Homo sapiens: one gene and its partners. The main gene of each other region encodes a partner of the protein of the gene in region 2 in a complex. Each region holds a gene or a part of one and is shown on either strand. Other genes may lie near its edges. The genes, in order: TPX2, AURKA and TACC3.

Region 1 (7,348 bases), about 25 Mb from region 2:
ATCCCAGCTACTCGGGACACTGAGGCAGGAGAATCGCTTGAACCTGGGAAGCGGAAGCTTCAGTGAGCCAAGATTGCGCCAGCCAGTGCACTCCAGCCTGAGCAACACAGTGAGACTGTCTCAAAAAAAAAAAAAAAAAAAGAGCAAACTTTTACTACTTTGTTTTACTAAGTACAAATAACATTATTTTTAATTTCCAAAGTAACCTCTAGATACAATTTTATACTTTTCTCACTGTTCTTTATTCCCCTTTTACCAAGTTTCCCTACACAAACAAAAACGGAAGCCCTCCGCAGTTATCTATCCTTTTTTCACAGAGTACCTTGGGCTGCTGATCTCTACATCTCTGTCTCAAATACAGATCTATTCACAGAATCGCTTGGGTTATGAAATCTCTCTAAGGCCAGGCAAGGTGGCTCACACCTGTAATCCCAGCACTTTGGGAGGCCGAGGCAGGTGGATCACCTGAGATAAGGAGTTTGAGACTAGCCTGGCCAACGTGGTGAAACCCTGTATCTACTAAAAATACAAAAATTAGGCCAGGCACAGTGGCTCACACCTGTAATCCCAGCACTTTGGGAGGCCGAGGCAGGCAGATTACGAGGTCAGGAGATTGAGACCATCCTGGCTAACATGGTGAAACCCCATCTCTATTAAAAATACAAAAAAACTAGCCGGGTGTGGTGGCATGCGCCTGTAGTCCCAGCTACTTGGGAGGCTGAGGCAGGAGAATTGCTTGAACCCAGGAGGCGGAGGTTGCAGTGAGCCGAGAGCGCACCATTGCACTCCAGCCTAGGTAACAAAGTGAGATGCCATCTCAAAAAAAAAATACAAAAATTAGCCGGGTGTGGTGGCAGATCCCTATAATCCCAGCTACTCAAGAGACTGAGGTAGGAGAATTGCTTGAACAGGGGAGGCAGAAGTTGCAGTGAGCTGAAATCGCGCCACTGCACTCCAGCCTGGGCGACAGAGTGAGACTCCGTCTCAAAAAAAAAAAACAAAAACAAAAACAAAAAAAACAACTCTATAGTCAATTTTGCTTCCTAACTTTGCCCATAGCAAAGAAAATTAAGTATGTCAAAGGGCATTTAAATATCCCTCCTCTTTCTCCCAGGAACTCAAAGAGAATTAGGGAAGAGACACAGAAAAAGCTGAAGGAAAATTAACCAGGAGATGTAGATGAGCCCTGAACATCTCCTGGTAACTAAAGAAATGAAATGAAGGACTCTCTCACATAATCCTGGACAAACTTAATTGCAATAAATTAATTTTATCAAGGTTGGAATACACAGATTTATGCATAAGGTTGGCCAAATAAACCCTATTCAGATAATTTGAAAGTCTAAACAAATTTACCAACCTAGTTGAATACAATCCAGTTTTTCATACCCGCAATTTTGTAGTCAATTCAGATAGTGCCTTCCTGCCTACTCAATTCAACAGGTATTTAGTGGGTGATTCCTATGCACTAGGATTGTTTCAGTCCCTGTCTAACCAAACTCTGGTTATCAAGAATTAGACAAGGGTGGCTTTGTGAAGCACAGAAACACAAACTGGCTCTTGAACTCCCTCACCTCTAAATTGTCCAGACACCTAGAATACAAAACAGTAGAGCACCCAGATGGTGTCCTATCTTGCTCTGATTCTCACTTGCCAATTTCAAACCATGTTTTTGTCCCCAAACATACCAAAAAACGTTTGAGTACATCATATATCTGTACACCCATAATATCTCATGCCAATCTGAGCACAGTACCCTCAAAGGTCAACTAAATGGCTGAGTTAGCTGACAGCCACATAATTTTGATCCAAGAATGCCAGCTTAATACTGAACTGACTCACCCAAACCAACCAGGGGGACTCAAGTCTGACGTGGGGGTGATGTAATACACTAAGGCCACAATACAAGAATATCCTTACTACAGCAGCAAGTAGTCCTATTTTTGACAACATTTGATGAGTGAGAGAAATTCAAAGAGAGGCCACAGGATGTCAAGAAAAGGTAAGGGTGAAGCAGGAAGTAAACCAAGAGCTGGTCTTAAAGCAAAATCCAGGAGTCAAAAATCCTCTTCTATCCTAAGTAGGCCTGATTTGGGGGGAGTCCATGTTACTGAACTACTAGAAAATTATATGTGGAAAACCAGACGTTATATGTCAAGAAAATAGGGGGTAAACCAATTCTACATTATAACCTGGTTTGGTTTTCCTTCCCCCCTCCAATCTATAAATGTTGAGAAAGGAAATGAGAAAGGGAATAATATCTGGTGATTCCATACAAAAAGAGAGCTGGACAAATATGGATAACATATAATGAATTTTAAATCCCAAATAGAAGACAACTCCAAGTGGACTTAAACTCTCCCTCAATTATGTTCTCACACCATCTAATTATCTTCCTGTTTTAGACAACAGTTTTGAAATGTACTTATTTGTGACTACCTCTGTTTTCCTCCATCAAACGCCACACTTCCTGAGGGCATGGCTACTGTATCACCCATTTCTCGAAATTTATCTAGATTCTGGGCCTCAGTTTCCTCCTCCTTCCTCCTTCCTCAGTTTCTGTCAAGAGGGACCAAGAATAGCACCAACTACATTGGCTTGGCGAGGAAATTAAATGAGAACGGGCATGCAGGGTGCTTAGTTCAGTCAATGTTTATAACCTGTTAGCATGGTAATAACAATAATTATCGTTACCGTTATTAGCCGACAGCCTCCCGCAACTCTTTTTTTCCTCCGTTTCCCGGACGGACTTCACAGCAAAATCCTGTCGCCAAGAGAAGCGTGGCCCGAAGCCCCTGCTCGCACCCTGCCCCGCCTAGGCGGCGACCGAGCACCGCAACCGCCTCAGAAGCCAGGCCTAGCGGCGCGAACGGCGCTAGGGGCTGGAAGGTGAACTTCAGCCGTTCCAAACTCCGGGAGGAGGGAGACCCGCGCCCTAGCTGCTCCCTCTTTTCTTCCCACGGCTCACCTAGCCTCGCCTCAGATCTGACAACGAAGCGCGAGCCAACCCGCCGCGGGACTCATTCAGTATCGTTGAAATTTTGAACCCAGGCAGCCTAGTCGAATGCACCAATCAGAGCGCCGGGAAAGCAATTCCAGGCTCCCGATTGGCCCTACAGACCGCAGCAATACCGGAAGTCAGAAGGAGGTACCAGCGAACAACGCGGCCCGGAGTTCCTGGGAAGTGTAGTCTCCTGCGCCTGCGTGAGTCCACTGGAACAGCTCTTAGGAGTACGTTATTACAAAGACCGGAGTGCTCTGCTCCAAACTATTTGGGAAAGGTGGTACCAACTGAAGAGGTGGAGAGTCAACCTAGATCACAGAATGGCGCGCATCCTGGACCTCTCCAAGTTTTCAGGGAAGAAAACTCTATTTTTAAAAATTATTCTCGTTATGGTTGTGCATTATCCCTTGAAGGTTCAGGGAGTTCACTTCGTCTTAACATGGAGTCGCCTGCATGCAACATAGACTCGCCCGTAGCGTCCTTCCCAATAGTGCAGGAGTCTTTGAAACCTTTTACCCAGTCCCTGCCCTGATCTTATGAAACCCGCGGTTCGTTGGGAGCTTTATCCGGTTTTATTCCCAACTGCATCCCGGCTTTATGATCCCCATGTCGTAAAAAGAAAACAAAGTCTAGGAGAAGTTGAACAAACATGTCCAAAATCACATAATAAATGGAGAAGATGGGATTCGAATTAAGAAGGTCTGTTCTTTTTATACACCACCGATAATTAATTAGAGGCCGGGCTTCGTGGCGCTCACCTATAATCCCAGCTCCACAGGAGGCTAAAGCAGAAGGATCCCTTGAGACCAAGAGTTCCAGAACAGCGTAGACATCATAACGAGACCACCCCCACCATCTTAATTTTTTTTAATCAATTAGAAAATAGCAGCAACAAGAACAACAAAACAACCCCCTTCATAATACCAGCAAAAGCTAAAGATTCAAAAATTAAGCCTAGGCTGGGTGCGGTAGCTCACGCATGTAATCCCAGCACTTTGGGAGGCCGAGACAGGCAGATCACTTGAGGCGATGAGTTCGAGACCAGCCTGGCCAAAATGTTGAAACCCCCCCCCATCTCTACTAAAAATACAAAAATTAGCCGGGCGTGCTCGCGCGTGCCTGTAATCACAGCTACTTGGGAGGTTGAGGCAGGAGAATCACTTGAACCCAGGAGGCGGAGGTTGCAGTGAGCCAAGATTGCACCACTGCACTCCAGCCTGGGCAACAGAGCGAGACTCTGTCTCAAAACAAAAAAAAAAAGGTCAAGGCAATTCCAATGAAAGTCCCAGTGGGTTCTGTTCTGGAATTTGCCAAGTTAATTCTAAAGTTCCTATGGAAGAGTACAAGTACTGGCATCTTGAATTTTGAAAAAGATTGGGGGATTTATGTACAGATTTTGTACATATTAACATGAAATTATAGTAATTTTTAAAGTATGGTTCAGTTAATTCACACCCATGGGGGTGCAATCGGCAAAATCCAGACAGGAAAACCACAGGACAATTTAGTTCCTTCAAAACATAAACTGCCAGAGTTTGGTTTTGTTTTCTTTTTGTTGTTGTTGTTTTGTTTCATTTTGTTTTTTGAGACGGAGTTTCGTTCTTGTAGCCCAGGCTGGAGTGCAACGGTGTGATCTCAGCTCACTGCAACCTCCGCCTCCCGGTTTCTCCTGCCTCAGCCTCCCAAGTACCCGGGATTAAAAATGCGCCACCACACCCGGCTAATTTTTATATTTTTTGATAGAGACGGGGTTTCACCATGTTGACCAGGCTAGTCTCGAACACCTGACCTCGGGTGATGCCCCCGCCTCACCCTCCCAAGTGCTGGGACTACAGGTGTGAGCCACCACACCTTTTGTTTTCTTTTTTAAGAGTCCTTGTGTTGTAGAGATACATATAGATACGGTAGGGATGAAATTACTCTGGCACTGGCTTCCAAATAATTGGGAGTAGGCAGTGAAGATAAGTAGGTGGGGATTTAGATGAAACAAGATTAGCTACAAATTGATAATTGTTGAACCTGGTGATGGGTTCATGATACATAAATACATACATATACTCTTGTATGAGTTTGAAATTTTCCACAATTAAAATGGGGTGGTTGCCTGGTGCTACTTGGAAGGCTGAGGCAGGAGAATCACTTAAACCCAGGAGGCAGAGGTTGCAGTGAGCCAAGATGGTGCCATTGCACTCCAGCCTGGGCGACAGAGCAAGACTCTACCTCAAAAACAAAGGGATGGGGGAGTGGTAGTTGTTGTGGTGGTTGTTTTGTTATTTTGAGATAGGGTCTTGCTGTCACCCAGGCTGGAGTGCAGTGGCAGGATCACGGCTCACTCCAACCCCAACCTCCCAGACTCAAGTGATCTTCCCACCTCAGCCTCCCACAGTGCTGGGATTACAGGCATGAGCCATGGCACCTTGTCTAAAAAGAGGTATTTTTGGCCTGGCGCGGTGGCTCACGCCTGTAATCCCAGCACTTTGGGAGACCGAGGCGGGTGGATCACGAGGTCAGGAGACTGAGACCATCCTGGCTAACACGGTGAAACCCTGTCTCTACTAAAAATACAAAAAAAATTAGCCGGGCATGGTGGCGGGTGCCTGTAGTCCCAGCTACTTGGGAGGCTGAGGCAGAAGAATGGCATGAACCCGGGAGGCGGAGCTTGCAGTGAGCCAAGATCGCGCCACTGCACTCCAGCCTGGGTGACTGAGCAAGACTCCGTCTCAAAAAAAAAAAAAGTATTTTTGCTGGGCACAGTGACTCATGCCTGTAATCCCAGCACTTTGGGAGGCCAAGGCGGCCAGATCACCTCAGGTCGGGAGTTCCAGACCAGCCTGACCAACATGGAGAAACCCCGTCTCTACTAAAAATAGAAAATTAACCGGGCATGGTGGCAGGCGCCTGTAATCCCAGCTACTCGGGAGTCTGAGGCAGGAGAATCGCTTGAACCCGGGAGGTGGAGGTTGTGGTGAGCCAGGATCGCGCCATTGCACTCCAGCCTGGGCAACAAGAGTGAAACTCCATCTCAAAAATAAATAAATAAATAAAGGTATTTTTAAGTATGGTATTGTCGTAGAAGTTAAAAGTGGGGGAAATCAGTAGAAGAGTTTAAGAGTCCAGAAACACACTCAGCCAGTTATGGTGGCTCATGCCTGTAATCTTAGCACTTTGGAAAGCAGAGGCGGGAAGATTGCTTGAGCCAGGAGTTTGAAATCAGCCTGGACAACATGGCAAGATACAAAAAACTTTTAAAATTAGCCAGGTGAGGTGGTGCGTACCTGTAGTCCCAGCTACTCAAGAAGCTGAGGTATGAGGATCACTTGAGCTTGGGAGGTCAAGGCTGCAGCGAGCCATGATTCTCCAGCCTGGGCGACAGAGCTGGGTCCTGTCTTTAAAAACAAAAACAAAATCCAGAACTCATGTATATCAGAATTTAGTAGGCCAGGCGCAGTGGCTCACGCCTGTAATCCCAGCACTTCAGGAGGCCGGGGGTGGGGGGCGGGGGCAGATCACTTGAGGTCAGGAGTTCGAGACCAGCCTGGGCAACATGGCAAAACCCCTTCTCTACAAAAAATACAAAACTTAATAGGCCTGGCACAGTGGCTCATGCCTGTAATCCCAGCACTTTGGGAGGCTGAGGAGGGGGGGTCACGAGGTCAGGAGTTTGAGACCAGCCTGGCCAACATAATGAAACCCCGTCTCTACAAAAAATACAAAAATTAGCCAGGTATGGTGGTACGCACCTGTAGTCCCAGCTACTCAGGAGGCTGAGGCAGGAGAATCGCTTGAACCCAGGAGGCAGAGGTTGCAGTGAGCCAAGACCATGCCATTGCACTCCATCCTGGGTGACAGAGTGAGACTCTGTCTCAAAAAAAACAAACAAACAAAAACAAAAATTAGCTGGGCATGGTGGTACTCACCTGTAGTCCCAGCTACTCCAGAGGCTGAGGTGGGAAGATCGTCTGAACCTGGAAGGTGGAGGTTGCAGTGAGCTGAAATCAGGCCACTACACTCCAGCCTGGGAGACAGAGCAAGATCCTGTCCCCCAACCCTCCACTAAAAAAAAGAAGAAACAAAACTGGCCATCAAACACATGAAGGTGCTCAGCCTCACTATAATAAAGGAAATTGAAACAAGAAAGTTCCATTTTTCACCCATCAGATTAACCAAAATTAAAAGTTTGATAGTATCAGAAATTTGTAAGGTAACTCAGCAGGTAGGAGTATAGATGGGTGTGGACAACTATTGACAACTATTTTTTTTTTTTTTGAGACAGAGTCTCTGTCTGTCGCTCAGGCTGGCATGTAGTGGCACAATCTCAGCTCACTACAACTTCTGACTCCTGGG
Region 2 (7,778 bases):
ATCTACAACTACAGAAACTCAAAAAATAGCAGTTCTGTAGTTAAATTATCCATTTTTTTCCATTCCAAATTTTAATATTTTTAGGGTTGAGATATATTAGCAGCTCTGATGCTCGTTAAGTTAGCTACATTGTTAACATGAATGCTAGTGAAATGTTTTTGAAATAAAGTTATTTAAAAAAAACTGGTTTATCAAGAATATGCATTTAAAATTTATAAATAACTTGACAAATCAAATAATATGTTGATTAGTAGAGGAAAAATTAACACTATGGATGAACAAGAAAATAAAAATGACCTTGAATTTTACCACCCAGAGATAATAACTGTTAACGTATCGGTATAAATTCTTAGGGATCCTTCCCCGTGCACGGCTGTTTTATTTTTCAAAACAGTAATAGAGCAATGCTGTGTAACATGTTGTGACTCACTTGTTCACTTAATCAAGCAGAACAAAAGTGTATCTTGGCTAATAAATATTCATCTATATAATTATGTTATAGTATTCACTTTTATGGATATTTAAAAATTTACAGCTAATTCCATGTTGTTGGCATTGCAGTTTGTCCATTTTATTTCCCCAGGAGAAATGCTCACAATTGGCACTGCCAAGTCAAAGGGTATTAACATGTTTGGTAATTCAATATTTTATTGAGTGCTTTCTATTATTAGCCAGGTAGGCTCCAGGATATACTGCTGAATAATACAAGGTCCTGATCCTTACTCAACTTGTAGTCTTTTTTGACAAGGGGGCAGCAGTAGGTGGGAAGTGTGGAGGTAAGGATCCCATGGGAAACAGCCCAAATGATAAAGGAAATTTCAAAACAACTGTTATAAAACAAATGGGATCGCTATGGCAGGGTAACCGGGAAAATGCACGAAAGGGTCGGATTATTTTAGGAGGAGTTAAGAGAACTCAGATGACATTTGATGTAAAATCTGAAGGAAGTCAGTAATATGTCTGACAGAGTGTTCCAGATAATGTGTACAAAGACCCTCAGGCCAGAACCAGCTTAAGGTCTTCATAATCTGAACTTTGCTTTACCCCTTACTTACTGAGCTACTTCCTGAACTCATGCTGAACTACTTACTTACTGAAGTACCCGGCTCATACTAGGTACTGAAACAAAACAAGAATAATCTTGAAAAATTCTGCCATATGAAAATATCTAAAACCTTGCCATGGGACGTATGGATTTGTGTTCACAATCTACCGAGTTTGATGAGATGCAGGAGCTGCTCCGAGGGTGCACACACAGACTGAGGCTTGATTTCATTGATGAGGCCATTGGCGATGCTGATGTAGCCGTCATATAGCAGCTGGCTAATGATCAGCTTGTAGAGCTGCTGGCGGTCCTTCAAGCCCACTTTGGTTCTGTACATCTTGGAGAAAAGGAAGACAGTTTCCCTGCCAGCTGCAAAAACGGAAAATGGACGGTGAAGGGTACAGGCTCTAGTAAATCACAGAAGCAACATAGGACTCTTTGGTCAGACTTAATCTTGCAGGACTCAAATCCCATCTCTACTAGCTGCATTATCTTTGGTCAGTGACCTCATTTCTCTAAGCCTGAGGTTCTTCAGCTGTTAAGTTACTGGAAGTTAAACACGGTGGTGCATATAAAGCCCTGAGCACAGTGCCTGGCATACAGAAATTGTTCAAGTCATGTTAGCCAGTGTTTACGGTACAATCTCTCACCAACTTTTCTTCTCCACCAAACTAGCTACCTATGATTTTTGTTCTTTATTGTTATCCCAGAATCTTCCATTACTTCTGTTAATTAAACATTGACTGGTACCTGCAATATGCAAGATAGCTGCTATTTTGTCAAGATCTAGACTGCTGGTTCCACTAGCTGAGCTGTATGTTTACTAATCTTTTATGCTCATTCTCAAAACCTGTTTTAAGGCAACTGAGCTTGTTACTGTAATTATATAATCTAATTAGACAGTAAATCAAAATATGAAGCAAAAAAAAGCAACTGTACTACAAAAACTCCAACCGAGTTAAATGCGTTAGAAAGGCTCAAAGGTGAGCTGCCCAATAAAATATTGCCAATCAAGGTCAAAACAATAAAAATGAAAAAAAAAACAGTAATAATCGGGAAGGATTGTGCATGCACTGACTTACAAGTGTCTAAGTTTTCCTTCAGTCTTAAGAGACAAAAAACTGTAAATGGTTTCTGGCTTATTCAAAAAAGAACTCCAACTGTTCAACATGATAATTTGCTTACCAAAAATCAATGCCTTTATGTATGTGTATGTTTGGACCAAGATTAAAAGGCTACAGGTGTCTGGGGACAGCAATAAAGAATAAAAGTGACCTCAGAGCCTGATTTCTTTTTTCTTTTTGAGACGGAGTCTCGCTCTGTCGCCCAGGCTTGAGGGCAGTGGCGCGATCTCGGCTCACTGCAACCTCCGCCTCCTGGGTTCAAGCTATTCTCCTGTCTCAGCCTCCCGAGTAGCTAAGACTACAGGCGCCCGCCACCACACCAGGCTAATTTTTGTATTTTTAGTAGAGACGGGGTTTCACCATATTGGCCAGGCTGGTCTCGAAACTCCTGACCTCAGGTGATCTGCCTGCCTCCGCCTCCCAAAGTGCTGGGATTACGGGCGCGAGCCACTGCGCCTGGCCCAGAGCCTGATTTCTTACACACTGTATGACACTGATGGTGTTAATAATAACCAATAACATTAAGCACTTCCTGCATGCCAGATACCGTCATGCTAAGTACTTTGTAAGCATCAGTTCACTGAATAAAATCATTCAATGTATTCAAGTATATGAAGTAGTACATGAACATAGTAGGTCTATGCTTGAGTAGAAAATCCTGGGACACAAATAAAGATGATGAAATGGGTTCAAGGAGGTCAGGACACCTACTCAACGTAAAAAGTGGCTGAGTTACTTGTCCAAGGTTAAAGCACACCAGAATTGCCAACTCCAGATCCCTGAGCTTAACCACTGAAGGAGTTCAGGAAATGCCAGCCCAAAACAAGATGCTTTGGCGGGCTGATTACCTTGAACTGAGGGCACCTGGAGAACAGCAGGCGGGAAGAGGCTTTCCCTGTGCTTTCCTTACCTGCCTAAAGTCTGACCCTCCAAAAATACCTCAATTGTCACGAATCCTTATAAACCAGGGAAGATTAACTCGGATCACATGAGAGATTAGAGGCTGACACCACCCAGAAGATCACCTATTCTGTCTGCATAACAAACTTGATTCACCATACATTTCCTCCGTTCACCGTCCCATAACTTGTGTTAGAGCTGCTTCCCGCCCCCCGCCCCCAATTCTCTATTCATTCCTTTCAGTAGCTCAGGATGCCATGTAGGCTTTAATCATCTGACTTCAACTTTTAGTCTCGTATTTTGTGGGACTCCTGTACGTAATTAAATATCGTTTTTCTCCCATGGACAATGTTCAGTTACCCGAAAAAAATGGGAGATTCTTAAGTACCAATAAAGAATGAAAATCACAAGTGGGTAGTCTGGCAAAGAAAAGTTGATGAGAGATTCTACTGTTAACGTTGGGTTAATATGACTCGAATAATTTCCGTATGCTAGCTCAATGCTTTACATGCACATCCTGTTTACCCTGCAGTAATCTGTTAATTCGTCTTATGTGAATTTAACTCTTAGTCCTAATAAGGTACCTGGAAGGATGGAGGGAAGCCATTTTTGGTTCCCCTACACCACTGTTCTATCCGGTCTCTTCACTTCTGCTGAGCACATCCCGGGTGTACATACACACACACACACACACATATGTGTGTGTATATATATGTATATGTGTGTGTGTGTGTATATATATATATATTTTAAGTGGCCCACCCCTAACTTCTCAACTCCCACAGAACGTTCACTCGCCAGGTAAACAGAAGCCTAATTATCCCCAATTTGCAGGTGAGCACACGAGGACAAGAACCCGATCCAGGACCGGATACATCGCAGTTGGAAAGGCTAGAACACAGATGCCCCCTCACTATATGCGCCGCGACCATCTGGATGCAGAGGCGAACTAAGGACTGGGTGGGAATGGAAGCGAGGCCCTTCGAGAAGAGGAAGGGGTGCAGGCCAAGCCGGGCAACTTAGGAAACGCAAAGTAGAGGCGCATGCCACCTTGCTAACTCTCGACTCTTCCAGTCTCGCCCCAGTCGTTTCTGTGGTTTTCTCTAAATGCCCCAGCCGACCGCACCAGCTACTCTCCCCGTGTCCCAGTACCAGCTGGTCCGGTTCTCTTGGTATCCCGCTCTCTCCTGGAAAAATGGAGGCGCGAATCCTGCCCAATCTACCGCTCCGAGCGCACGTTCACTGCGCACGCTGAAAGGGCGCCAAGCCGACCGCTGCGCTATCGATCGGTCCCACTCTCTCTTGCTTTTCTCGCCATCTTACTTACTGGCACGTTCAAAGGTTAGTTCACCTCCTTGGACTTTATCTCCAATGCGTCAAGCTTGACGTCAAGGGGCTGTTGCTTCACCGATAAATGGCCGACCGCGGAGAGCACCCTGGGGCTGGGACTGCCACAGGTCTGGCTGGCCGTTGGCTCCACCACTTCCGGGTTCTTAGGGAGCAAGTGCGCCTGCGCGCGGTGTGCGCCCTTAAACGCGACTCAAGGCGTCGGGTTTGTTGTCAACCAATCACAAGGCAGCCTCGCTCGAGCGCAGGCCAATCGGCTTTCTAGCTAGAGGGTTTAACTCCTATTTAAAAAGAAGAACCTTTGAATTCTAACGGCTGAGCTCTTGGAAGACTTGGGTCCTTGGGTCGCAGGTGGGAGCCGACGGGTGGGTAGACCGTGGGGGATATCTCAGTGGCGGACGAGGACGGCGGGGACAAGGGGCGGCTGGTCGGAGTGGCGGAGCGTCAAGTCCCCTGTCGGTTCCTCCGTCCCTGAGTGTCCTTGGCGCTGCCTTGTGCCCGCCCAGCGCCTTTGCATCCGCTCCTGGGCACCGAGGCGCCCTGTAGGATACTGCTTGTTACTTATTACAGCTAGAGGTACAAGGGGTTTGTTGAGTGGTGTTGACATGCGCGGGAGGGGTGGGTGGGCTTCAGATTGGATTTTGTCCTCCGAGATCACCTGGGTAAGAAAAGCACAGAAGGTCTCTGCTGTGTTGGAGTTCACGTTCTAGTGGGTGGGGAGACAGACGGTAAGCGTACGGAGAACTTGCAGCTGGGGTGGGTGTTACAGAGGAAAAGCAGGAGTGCGGTTTAACGGGGGCCGCTTTAGATAGAATAGCCTAAGAAGGCCCTTGTCCTGGCTGGATGAGTGGGTGAATTGATGAATGAGAACCTCCTTGCAGAGGCCTTCCCGGTCCGTACTTCTCAGACCGTAGACCTTGGAGCAGTTGTACCGGGATAACTTGCAGTGCTTGTTAAACATATAGCTCCACCGAGAGCCCGGTAAATCAGAATCTCTGAGGGGTAGGACCCAGGTGTCTAGTTATTAACAAACTCTCCAGATGATTCTTAGGTTTCATTGAGAACTAGGGATGCAGACCGGTGCATACAAATCGTCTGGGGACGTTAAAATGCAGAATCTGTTTTTTTAGACCTGGGGTTAGGCCTCAGAGTCTCCATTTCTAAGAACCATCCGGCTGAGGTAGACGTAGCCACTGTCCTTAACTCTCGTAATGTCTCTTCCTCTTCCGTAACCTTCCTTGTCCCTTGAATTAAACGTTTTTCAGCAACCTACTCAGTTCGTCCTTCCCTTCATCTCTGCAGACATGCACAGGTCTGAGGGAGGAAGGAATAAACCGTATAAACCTCCTGCGCTATTAGCCTAACAGCTTTTCTATTCAAAATAGTAGGACTTCTGGTTTGAACTGAATGGATCCTGTGAAAGTCATCTGGTTCTTCAATCTGGTTGCAGATTAGAGTCACCTGAAGGGCAGTCTCCTTGGCGTTGTCTCCAGAATTCTGGATTAGAATCTTATTCCATTCTGCTTGTTATTCAATTTCCCTAGAAAGAAAGGTAGAATAAATTGGAGCAAATGCCTGTAGCTTCTGTCAGAAGAATGTTGAATAAATGTTGTTAGGCCTATGTGATCTCATTAGACTGCTACTTAGAATTGTAAGGGAAGTAAAGCATTAGAGCATGTGTGAAATTAAATATTTGATTAACACAAGTGTGCATTTCCTTGTTGCTGTTTATCAACTTTTACTTACCCACTGTTTTTTTATAAGGGCTGCAGCCTGTAGTCTGGGCCTGGCTTCATCATGGAATTATTTGCTTAATTGTAAAATGGTAATCTTAATTTTTTTTTTTGAGACAGGGTCTCACTCCATTGCCCAGGCCAGAGTGCGGGGATATTTGATAAGAAACTTCAGTGAAGGCCGGGCGCGGTGGCTCATGCCCGTAATCCCAGCATTTTCGGAGGCCGAGGTGGGTGGATCACCTGAGGTCGGGAGTTCCAGACCAGCCCTACCAACATAGAGAAACCCTGTCTCTACTAAAAATACAAAATCAGCTGGGCGTGGTGGTGCATGTCTGTAATCCCAGCTACTCTGGAGGCTGAGGCAGGAGAATTGCTTGAACCCAGGAGGTGGAGGTTGCGGGTGAGCCGAGATTGCGCCATTGCACTCCAGCCTGGGCAACAAGAGCAAACTCTATCTCAAAAAAAAAAAAAAAGAAACCTCAGTGAAATGAAAGACTGAACTACACACCTGGGGGAAAAGCGTAATAAAGGGAGCAAGAAGTGCAAATGCTTATGGCAGGGGACTTATTTGCAGAAAGAAAGCCTTGTGTGGCTGGTACACGGTTGACAAGAAGAGGAGATGAAGTCAGAGAGGTAGTTAGGGTCCATGTTCTGTGAGACTTCAATAGGCCTGTCTATGCAGGTTAGGAGTTTGCATTGTTTTGATTGAGTTGGGAGCCATGGGGGTCTTCTGAACTGAGGATCAACACATCTGATTTGTTAATGAGATTGCCGGCCTCAGTGTTAAGAATGGACCATGACAGGGTAAGGGTGGAAGTGGGGAGGCCATTGGGAGGCTGTTGGAAAAAACTCAAGGGAGAGAGAATAATGGTTTGACCAGGTGGTAGTAGTAGAGGTGGTGAGCAGTGATCTTGAAGGCAGAGCCTACAGAATATGCTGGTGGATTAAATGAAGGGTTTGCGAGAGAGAACCTCGTAAAGGGTTATTATGCCAAGGCTTTTGGCCTGAGCAACTGACAGGATGGGTTTGCCATGCACTGAGATGAGGATGTCTAGAGACTAGATTTGGGGAGGTGAGAGTGGGGAGAGATTAGGACTTCTGTTTGGGACATGTTAGAATGGAGATGCCGCTCAGATAATCAGGTGCAGATGTTGCATAGAAAGTAGAAAATGTAGATCAAGAGTTCAGGGGAGAGGTCTGGGCTGAAGAATGAATATTTGGGAGTCCTCAGCCTGTAGATGGTACTGAAAGCAAAGAGACTGGATGTACTCGGCTAGGGAGTAATTGGAGATGGAGAAGTCATTCTAGGCCTGAGCTCAGGGCACACCCATGAACAGGGAGGTGAGAAGTGGAGAAGGGAAGAGGTTCAGTTTTGGATATGTTAGGATTGAGGTGCCTGGCAGACATTTTTGGGAGATCCTGGGCAAATCCTTGGATATCCAAGTCTGACAGTCCAAGGAGAGACTAGGGCAGAAGACGCACTTTGAGTGGTCCTCATGAAGGCATTTAGAGCTGAGGCACTGGGTGATATGGATCCCTGGTGAAGGTGTAGATGGAGAAGTGGAGGGTCCAGGGACTCGTTCTTGAGTCACCCCAGACCCTTGATCTGGCAAAAATGAGACTGAC
Region 3 (7,101 bases), on a different chromosome or scaffold from region 2:
TGGAAACTGTAGACTCAGGAAAATGAGCAGGAGAGGTGAACAATGCAGTGCGCTAATGAGATACAAGTGTAGAGTCAACAACTGGATACTCGATCATCAGAAATACTGCTTGAAACGACCTTCTTTTTTTTTTCTGAGATAGTCTCGCTCTGTCACCCAGCCTGGAATGCAGTGGCACAATCTGGGTTCAATGCAACCTCCACTTCCCAGGTTCAAGAGATTCTCCTGCTCAGCCTCCCAAGTAGCTGGGATTACAAGCATGTACCACCACATCCAGCTAATTTTTGTACTTTTAGTGGCAACGGGGTTTCACCATGTTGGCCAGGCTGGTCTCAAACTCTGACCTCAAGTGATCCACCTGCCTCGGCCTCCCAAAGTGCTGGGATTGCACGCGTGAGCCCCCGCGCCCGGCCCAGAACCCCTTGATAATGAAATGTGAAGCCTGAACCTTAGACACCAGACTGCAGTTAAATACGGTTTGTCCGTAAGACTGGAGGCTGCAGTTGAATACGGTTTGTCCATAAGATTGGAGGCTGCACTTGAATACGGTTTGTCTGTAAGATTGGAGGCTGCAGTTAAACATGGTTTGTCCATAAGATTGGAGGCTGCACTTGAATACGGTTTGTCTGTAAGATTGGAGGCTGCAGTTAAATAAATACGGCTTGTCCGTAAGATTGGAGGCTGCAGTTAAATAAATACGGTTTGTCCGTAAGATTGGAGGCTGCAGTTAAATAAATACGGTTTGTCCGTAAGATTGGAGGCTGCAGTTAAATAAATACGGTTTGTCCGTAAGATTGGAGGCTGCAGTTGAATACGGTTTGTCCGTAAGATTGGAGGCTGCAGTTGAATACGGTTTGTCCGTAAGATTGGAGGCTGCAGTTAAATAAATACAGTTTGTCCGTAAGATTGGAGGCTGCAGTTAAATAAATACGGTTTGTCCGTAAGATTGGAAGGTGGAACGGTCCTTAAATTAAAGTGCATTTGGTAGGAATTGATGGCTGAGTTGTTTTAAAGGACACACAGCCAGGTGGGTATAAGATCTCAATTTAGAGAACTGAAAACCCAGGCACACAGCAGACACGAATGGCATGTAGGGTTTGTCGCTGACAGGATAGTTGTGGGCCGCCACCATGTGGGGATATCAGCTCAGCTGGGATGGGCCTGTCACCCTCACGCAGGATCCCTGGAATCACACAGCACGGCCTTCTGTGTCCGGCGTCTCCCTCGGGGAGGTGTGTTTCCGAGTCCTGGCCATGCTGGAGCAGGTGTGGGTGCTCCTGTCCTTGCCGTGGCAGCTTGGCTTCACATCATCTTATCCATTCATTCATGGATTTGCTGGTTTCTGCTTTTTAGCTGTCAGGAGTAGTGCTGCCTCGAATGTTCAGGTGTAAGTTCTATGTGGATGTATTCTTCCATTTCTCCTGGATACATAGCTAGGAGTGGAGTCGCTGGTCACAGTAACTCTGCTCACCTTTTAGCTACCAGGTGGCCTTCCAGAGTGGCTGCAGTGTTTCACATTCCCACTGGCAGTTATAAGAGAGCTCCAGTTTCTCCACATCCTCGCCAGCGCTGCTTGTCTGTCTTGTTGATCCTAGACTTCCAGCGGGTGGGAAGCGGATCTGGTTGCGGTTTTGATTTGCAGTTCCCAGGTGGCTCATGAACGAGCGTCTTTTTATGTGCTCGTTGGATATCTTCTTTGGGAAAGTGTCTGTCGAGATCCCTTGTCCATTGAGCCACTTATGTTTTTATTACTGAGTTTTAAGAGGTAAATCCCTTTTATTCAAGAAGTGAGGGAAAGGAAAAAATACAAAGTTAAGTCCCTTATCAGATGATGTTTCAAAGTATTGGCTTTTGGCCAGGCATAGGGGCCCACACTTGTAATCTCAGCATTTTGCGGGGCCGAGGCAGGATTGTTTGAGCCCTGTAGTTTGAGACTAACCTGGGCAACATGGCAAGACCTCATCTCTACCAAAAAAAACCTTTTTTTTTATTACCTGGCATGGTGGCGTACACCTATAGTCCCAGCTGCTCGGGAAGCTGAGATGGGAGGCTCGCTTGAGCCAGGAGGTCAAGGCTGCAGTGAGCCATGATTGCACTACTGCACTCCAGTCTGGGCGACAGCGAGACCCTATCTGAAGGAAAGAAAAAAAAGGCAGAAATGAAAACTGACAACAAGGCTAGGTGCGGTGGCTCACGCCCGTAATCCTAGCACTTTGGGAGGCTGAGGAGGGCGAATCACCTGAGATCAAGAGTTTGAGATCAGCCTGGCCAACATGGTGAAACCTCATCTCTACTAAAAATACAAAAATTAGCTGGGTGTGTTGGCACATGCCTGTAATCCTAGCTACTTGGGAGGCTGAGGCGGGAGAATCGCTTGAACCCAGGAGGCGGAGGTTGCAGTGAGCCGAGATGGCGCCACCGCACTCCACCTGAGCAACAGAGCAAGACTCTGTCTCAAAAAAAAAAAAAAGAAAAGAAAACTGACAAGGCCATAGCAGAGAAGGACCTACAAGTTTTTGCTAGACTAAATAATTGGCAACCGTTTTTTAGCTTAATTGAGAAAAGGAGAGAATGAGCAAATACTGCTAGGCATGAAGAAAGGGACAAAACTAGAGATGCCTCAGCCTGGATCTCAGCCAGATCAAGACCCTGTCTTAAAGTACCAGTTTGGTTTGTTTTTTTCCCGAGACGGAGTCTTGCTCTGTCGCCCAGGCTGGAGTGCAGTAGCATGATCTCAGCTTGTTGCAACCTCCGCCTCCTGGGTTCAAGCGATTCTCCTGCCTCAGCCTCCCAAGTAGCTGGGATTACAGGCTCATGCCACCGTGCCCAACTAATTTTTGCATTTTTCGTAGAGACAGGGTTTCCCCATGTTGGCCAGGCTGGCCTCAAACTCCTGACCTCAGGTGATCCACCTGCCTTGGCCTCCCAAAGTGCTGGGATTACAGATGTGAGCTACTGCGCCCAGCCACAGTTTAAGAGTTTTATAGTTTTAGAGGCCGAGACCGGAGGATCACTTGAAGTCAGGAGTTCAAGACCAGCCCTGGCAACGTAGCAAGACTCCTCCTCTACCAAAACAAAAAGTAGGATAGTTTTAACTCTCACAGTTAGGGTGTTGATCCATTCTGAGTTAATCTTTGTATGTGGTATGAGGCACCTTTTCTTTTTTTTTGCAACAGTTTTCCCTCCGCTGCCCAGGTTGGAGTGCAGTGGCATAATCTCAGCTCAGTGCAGCCTCCACCTCCCAGGCTCAAGGAGTTCTCCTGCCTCAGCCTCCCTGTAATAGGAGTGCAGCACCGCGCCTAGCTAATTTTTGTATTTTTTGTACAGACAAGGTTTTGCCCTGTTGAACTCCTGGGCTCAAGTGATCCACTCGCCTCAGCCTCCACCCTTAGTTTTAATCAAAAGTTATATTATCAAAAATTAAAAGACTTGTCTAGGGTAATTTTAAAGACTAATAGTTCTCAACCAGAGCAGTTTTGCCCCCGCCTTTCCCCAGATGTTTGTGGTTGTCACACCTGGAGGTGCTGCTGGCAGGGAGTGGGTAGAGGCTGGGGATGCCGCTCAGCACCCTGCGGTGCCCAGGAGGCGCCTGCCGCAGACAGCAGTCAGGCCCCGAACATCCACACCTCCAAGGGAGGAAATACTGCTGGCTGGAATGATCCTGCCTCACTGAGTGCTGAGGGAGACACCAGCCCGCCGCCCTTAGGGCCCTGGTGAGGGGCGATGGCGGCGGCATGATTCACTCCTCTCAGTTCTAGGCACGGGCGCGGAGGTGGATTACCTGGAGCAGTTTGGAACTTCCTCGGTAGGTACCAGGCAATTCCGCGAAGCCTCACCCACAGGGTGTCCGAGAGCAGCCACGGCAGGTCTTGCCCCCGGAGCGTCCCTTGGTGCCCACGTCCCCCCAGCTGCACACAGGCCCAGGCATTGTGGCGGGCTGTGAATCCAGGGCCCCTTCTGCAGCACCTCCTCTAAGTGGTGTCCTGTGGCAGGGCTCTAGGGCTCTCTACCTGGTGCCTAGCCCAGGATGAAACTCTGACACGCTGTGCTGCTGGGAATGGTGGTGTCTCGGGCAGGGTTGTGGGTGACCGGGGGTGGGAGTGTGCGGGTGACCGGGGGTGGGAGTGTGCAGGTGACCTCCCTGGCCCTTAGCCCCCGTGTGTGTTAGGGGATGGCAGTCAGACCTGATCACTTGCCCTCTTGTCCCCAGTTTAAGGAGTCGGCCTTGAGGAAGCAGTCCTTATACCTCAAGTTCGACCCCCTCCTGAGGGACAGTCCTGGTAGACCAGTGCCCGTGGCCACCGAGACCAGCAGGTATGTGCGCCGGCCCTCCCTCATGCATGAAGCCTTGAGTGTGGGAAGACTGGAGGCTGTTCCTAGGTGTGCTGTCTGCACAGAGGCTTCTAGACCGGGGGGAGATGATCAGAACTGGAAAGGAGCTGTGCTAGGGGTGGGCTGGGCAGCAAGGCCAGAGCAGCCCTTGTGTGTCTGGCAGGAGCAACGGCAGCCTACCCTCCAGCCACAGGGCTGCTGCCTTGCTGGTTACAGCCACCGTTCTAGGTATATTAAAGATCTAAACTTAAATCTTTTAAGAGTACTTCCTCTAAAACAGAGGTCGGCAGGCCAGGCGCGGTGGCTTACGCCTGTAATCCCAGCACTTTGGGAGGCCGAGGTGGATGGATAGCCTCAGCTCAGGAGTTTGCCACCAGCCTGGGCAACATGTTGAAACCCCGTCTCTACTAAAATACAAAAATTAGCCGGGTGTGACGGCATGCACCTGTAGTCTCAGCTACTTGGGAAGCCGAGGCAGGAGAATTGCTTGAACCCAGGAGGCGGAGGTTGCAGTGAGCTGAGATTGCGCCACTGCACTCCAGCCTGGGCAACAGAGTGAGACTCCATCTCAAAAAAAAAAAAAAAAAAAAAAACCAAAAAATAGAGGTCAGCAAACTATCACCTGTGGGCCAGACTTGGCCACTGCCTGTTTGTGTAAAGTTTTATCGTCACAGAGCCATGCCCGTTCCTTTGCAAATTGTGGCAACTTTCACACTACAAGGCCAGAACTGAGTAGTGTGACAGAGGCTGTGTGGCCTTCAAATCCTAACACATGGCCGGGCGCAGTGGCTCACACCTGGAATCCCAGCCCTTTGGGAGGCTGAGGCGGGTGGATCGCCTGAGGTCAGGAGTTTGAGACCAGCCTGGCCAACATAGTGAACCCCCATCTCTACTAAAAATAACAAAAATTAGCCGGGTGAGGCGGCAGGCGCCTGTAATCCCAGCTACTTGGGTTGCTGAAGCAGGAGAATCGGGTGAGCCTGGGAGGCAGGGGTTGCAGGGAGCCGAGATCATGCCACTGCACTCCAATCTGGGTGACAGAGTGAGACCCTGTCTCGGAAAAAGAAAAAAAAAAAGGCTCTGAGCTGTGAACAGCCCCCTGATGAGGCAGCACTGGCTCCGCTCAGCCTGCAGTGGGTAATGAAGCGTCACCGTGCTCTCCCGGAAGGACAAGCAGCCACGTGGGATGGGCAGGTGAGGGAGGGGGGCACGGAGCAGCAGAGAGGCCGGGCATGCTGGATGCGGGTCTGCGTTTTCTACCACTACCCTGACTTGAGTGGTTTTAAACTAAAAAGCAAAGAGCCCGGTTAGCTTGTCCACATGGTCCTCTGTGTCCTACTCAACACTGGGAGGGCCTAGTGACTGAGGCTGCCTCTGCTTGGTGGCAGCATGCACGGTGCAAATGAGACTCCCTCAGGACGTCCGCGGGAAGCCAAGCTTGTGGAGTTCGATTTCTTGGGAGCACTGGACATTCCTGTAAGTCCTTGAGTCCCTCTTGAACTGTCTTGTGTGTGGTCTGAGGGAACGAGTTGTTTTAAGGGCCTATATTTTCTATTCCTGGGGGTCTGAGCCTTTGGTTTTGTTGGGGGCATGGGGCCGCTGTGCTGTTCCCTCGCCGCACTGTCTCGGGTCCCTCATGCACTGTCTGAGGCTCTTGGCCTGTGTGGGCCTTTCCTCCCTCACACTAGGTCAGAGGTAAGAGGCAAGGGCGAAATGGGTTCCTGTTTCATCCCCATCTCCCGCAGGTGCCAGGCCCACCCCCAGGTGTTCCCGCGCCTGGGGGCCCACCCCTGTCCACCGGACCTATAGTGGACCTGCTCCAGTACAGCCAGAAGGACCTGGATGCAGTGGTAAGGACGCAGGTAGTAGCTATTCCACAGAACCTGCAGGCCGCTCTGGGGCTTGGCCAACAGTGGGCAGGGGTCCAACAGCCTGACCCGCCATCCCTGCCATCCCTGCCCCTGCTGGTTGGGGTGGAATTGCAGAGAGCTGCCGGCCCCTGGCCTGTCACTACTGCCCAGGTCGCTGAGGGTCCAGGCTTCCACCCAGTGTCCCCGCAGTCAGCTGCCCACCAGCAGCCTCCCCGGGACTCTCCGGCCTGGGCATGGCGTTGGCCTCTGGTGGCCTTGCAGCAGTGAGTGTGGTTCTTGCTGCCGTGAGCCCGAGTGTCGCCCCTTTCCTCCCGCCCTCCCACGAGTCCAGACGCATCTCCTGGCAGCTTAGGAAGCTCCATCTTCACCCACCCCACATCTGAGGGTCCCGTGCCTTGTCTCCCTCCATCCTCACTGTACATGCCAGGCTTCAGCCTGTTCTAACTCCGGGCCTAAATTGTCCCTAAGAGAGCTGTAGGCACACAAAGGGGCTGGGTGTCTGCAGGCACCACTGTGAGCTACCGTCGCCAGATGGTCCCCAGGGAGGTGCAGACAGGGTGGTTCCGGAGGCCGGCTGGCAGGGCTGGGTTCAAGCCCCAACATCCACACCAGTGTTGTTCACAGTGGCCCCAGGTGTCATCTCCGCAGAGGCCTGTGATGTGGCCCTGACCCCGTACCCCAACAACCTCCTTCCCTGTGTCAGAGCCCGTGTGAGTAACCCAATAGCAGGCCTGGGGACCACAGTGTGGCTGGCCCCCTCCTCTGCAGGCCTGGGCTCCGGGGGCAGGTGGCCCCTGCATGTAACTTATGTTAGAAATGCACAATGCTTGTTCTCTGGTGCCACAAAGAAATAGTGCTCGAACATTAATTTTCTCAGCAAGGCAGTTTTTACTTTCTG

Evidence for each region.
Region 1: the proteins of AURKA (region 2) and TPX2 are in contact, whole or in part, in a crystal structure (PDB 3HA6), measured with the Homo sapiens proteins. Residues at the interface, in NP_001310232.1 of Homo sapiens: Lys125, Arg126, Gln127, Trp128, Asp132, Glu152, Gln154, Ser155, Phe157, Leu159, Lys166, Glu170, Gly173, Glu175, Leu178, Arg179, Val182, Glu183, Ile184, Ser186, His187, Leu188, Arg189, Tyr197, Gly198, Tyr199, His201, Val206, Tyr246, Ser249; in NP_036244.2 of Homo sapiens: Gln3, Lys5, Ser6, Ser7, Tyr8, Ser9, Tyr10, Asp11, Ala12, Pro13, Ser14, Asp15, Phe16, Ile17, Phe19, Ser20, Ile31, Asp32, Trp34, Phe35, Glu36, Lys38, Ala39.
Region 3: the proteins of AURKA (region 2) and TACC3 are in contact, whole or in part, in a crystal structure (PDB 5ODT), measured with the Homo sapiens proteins. Residues at the interface, in NP_001310232.1 of Homo sapiens: Leu130, Phe133, Glu134, Ile135, Gly136, Arg137, Tyr148, Leu149, Ala150, Arg151, Ile158, Val163, Arg205, Tyr207; in NP_001428248.1 of Homo sapiens: Glu523, Ser524, Phe525, Arg526, Pro528, Val531, Leu532, Gly533.

Annotation. Positions count from the first base shown.
Region 1 is NC_000020.11:31,734,968-31,742,315, reverse strand, and holds the start of TPX2 (targeting protein for Xklp2), read right to left. Parts: upstream 3,027-7,348; 5' UTR 2,695-3,026; intron 1-2,694. UniProt on the Homo sapiens protein: Spindle assembly factor required for normal assembly of mitotic spindles. Required for normal assembly of microtubules during apoptosis. Required for chromatin and/or kinetochore dependent microtubule nucleation.
Region 2 is NC_000020.11:56,389,157-56,396,934, reverse strand, and holds the start of AURKA (aurora kinase A), read left to right. Parts: upstream 1-4,719; 5' UTR 4,720-4,767; exon of another isoform or gene 4,768-5,144; intron 5,145-6,269; exon of another isoform or gene 6,270-6,379; intron 6,380-7,778. Other genes in the region: CSTF1 (cleavage stimulation factor subunit 1), read right to left, coding at 1,214-1,382. UniProt on the Homo sapiens protein: Mitotic serine/threonine kinase that contributes to the regulation of cell cycle progression.
Region 3 is NC_000004.12:1,731,521-1,738,621, forward strand, and holds part of TACC3 (transforming acidic coiled-coil-containing protein 3), read left to right. Parts: intron 1-3,752; coding exon 3,753-3,805; intron 3,806-4,210; coding exon 4,211-4,314; intron 4,315-5,720; coding exon 5,721-5,808; intron 5,809-6,077; coding exon 6,078-6,182; coding exon of another isoform or gene 6,183-6,194; intron 6,195-6,827; coding exon of another isoform or gene 6,828-6,872; exon of another isoform or gene 6,873-7,101. UniProt on the Homo sapiens protein: Plays a role in the microtubule-dependent coupling of the nucleus and the centrosome. Involved in the processes that regulate centrosome-mediated interkinetic nuclear migration (INM) of neural progenitors.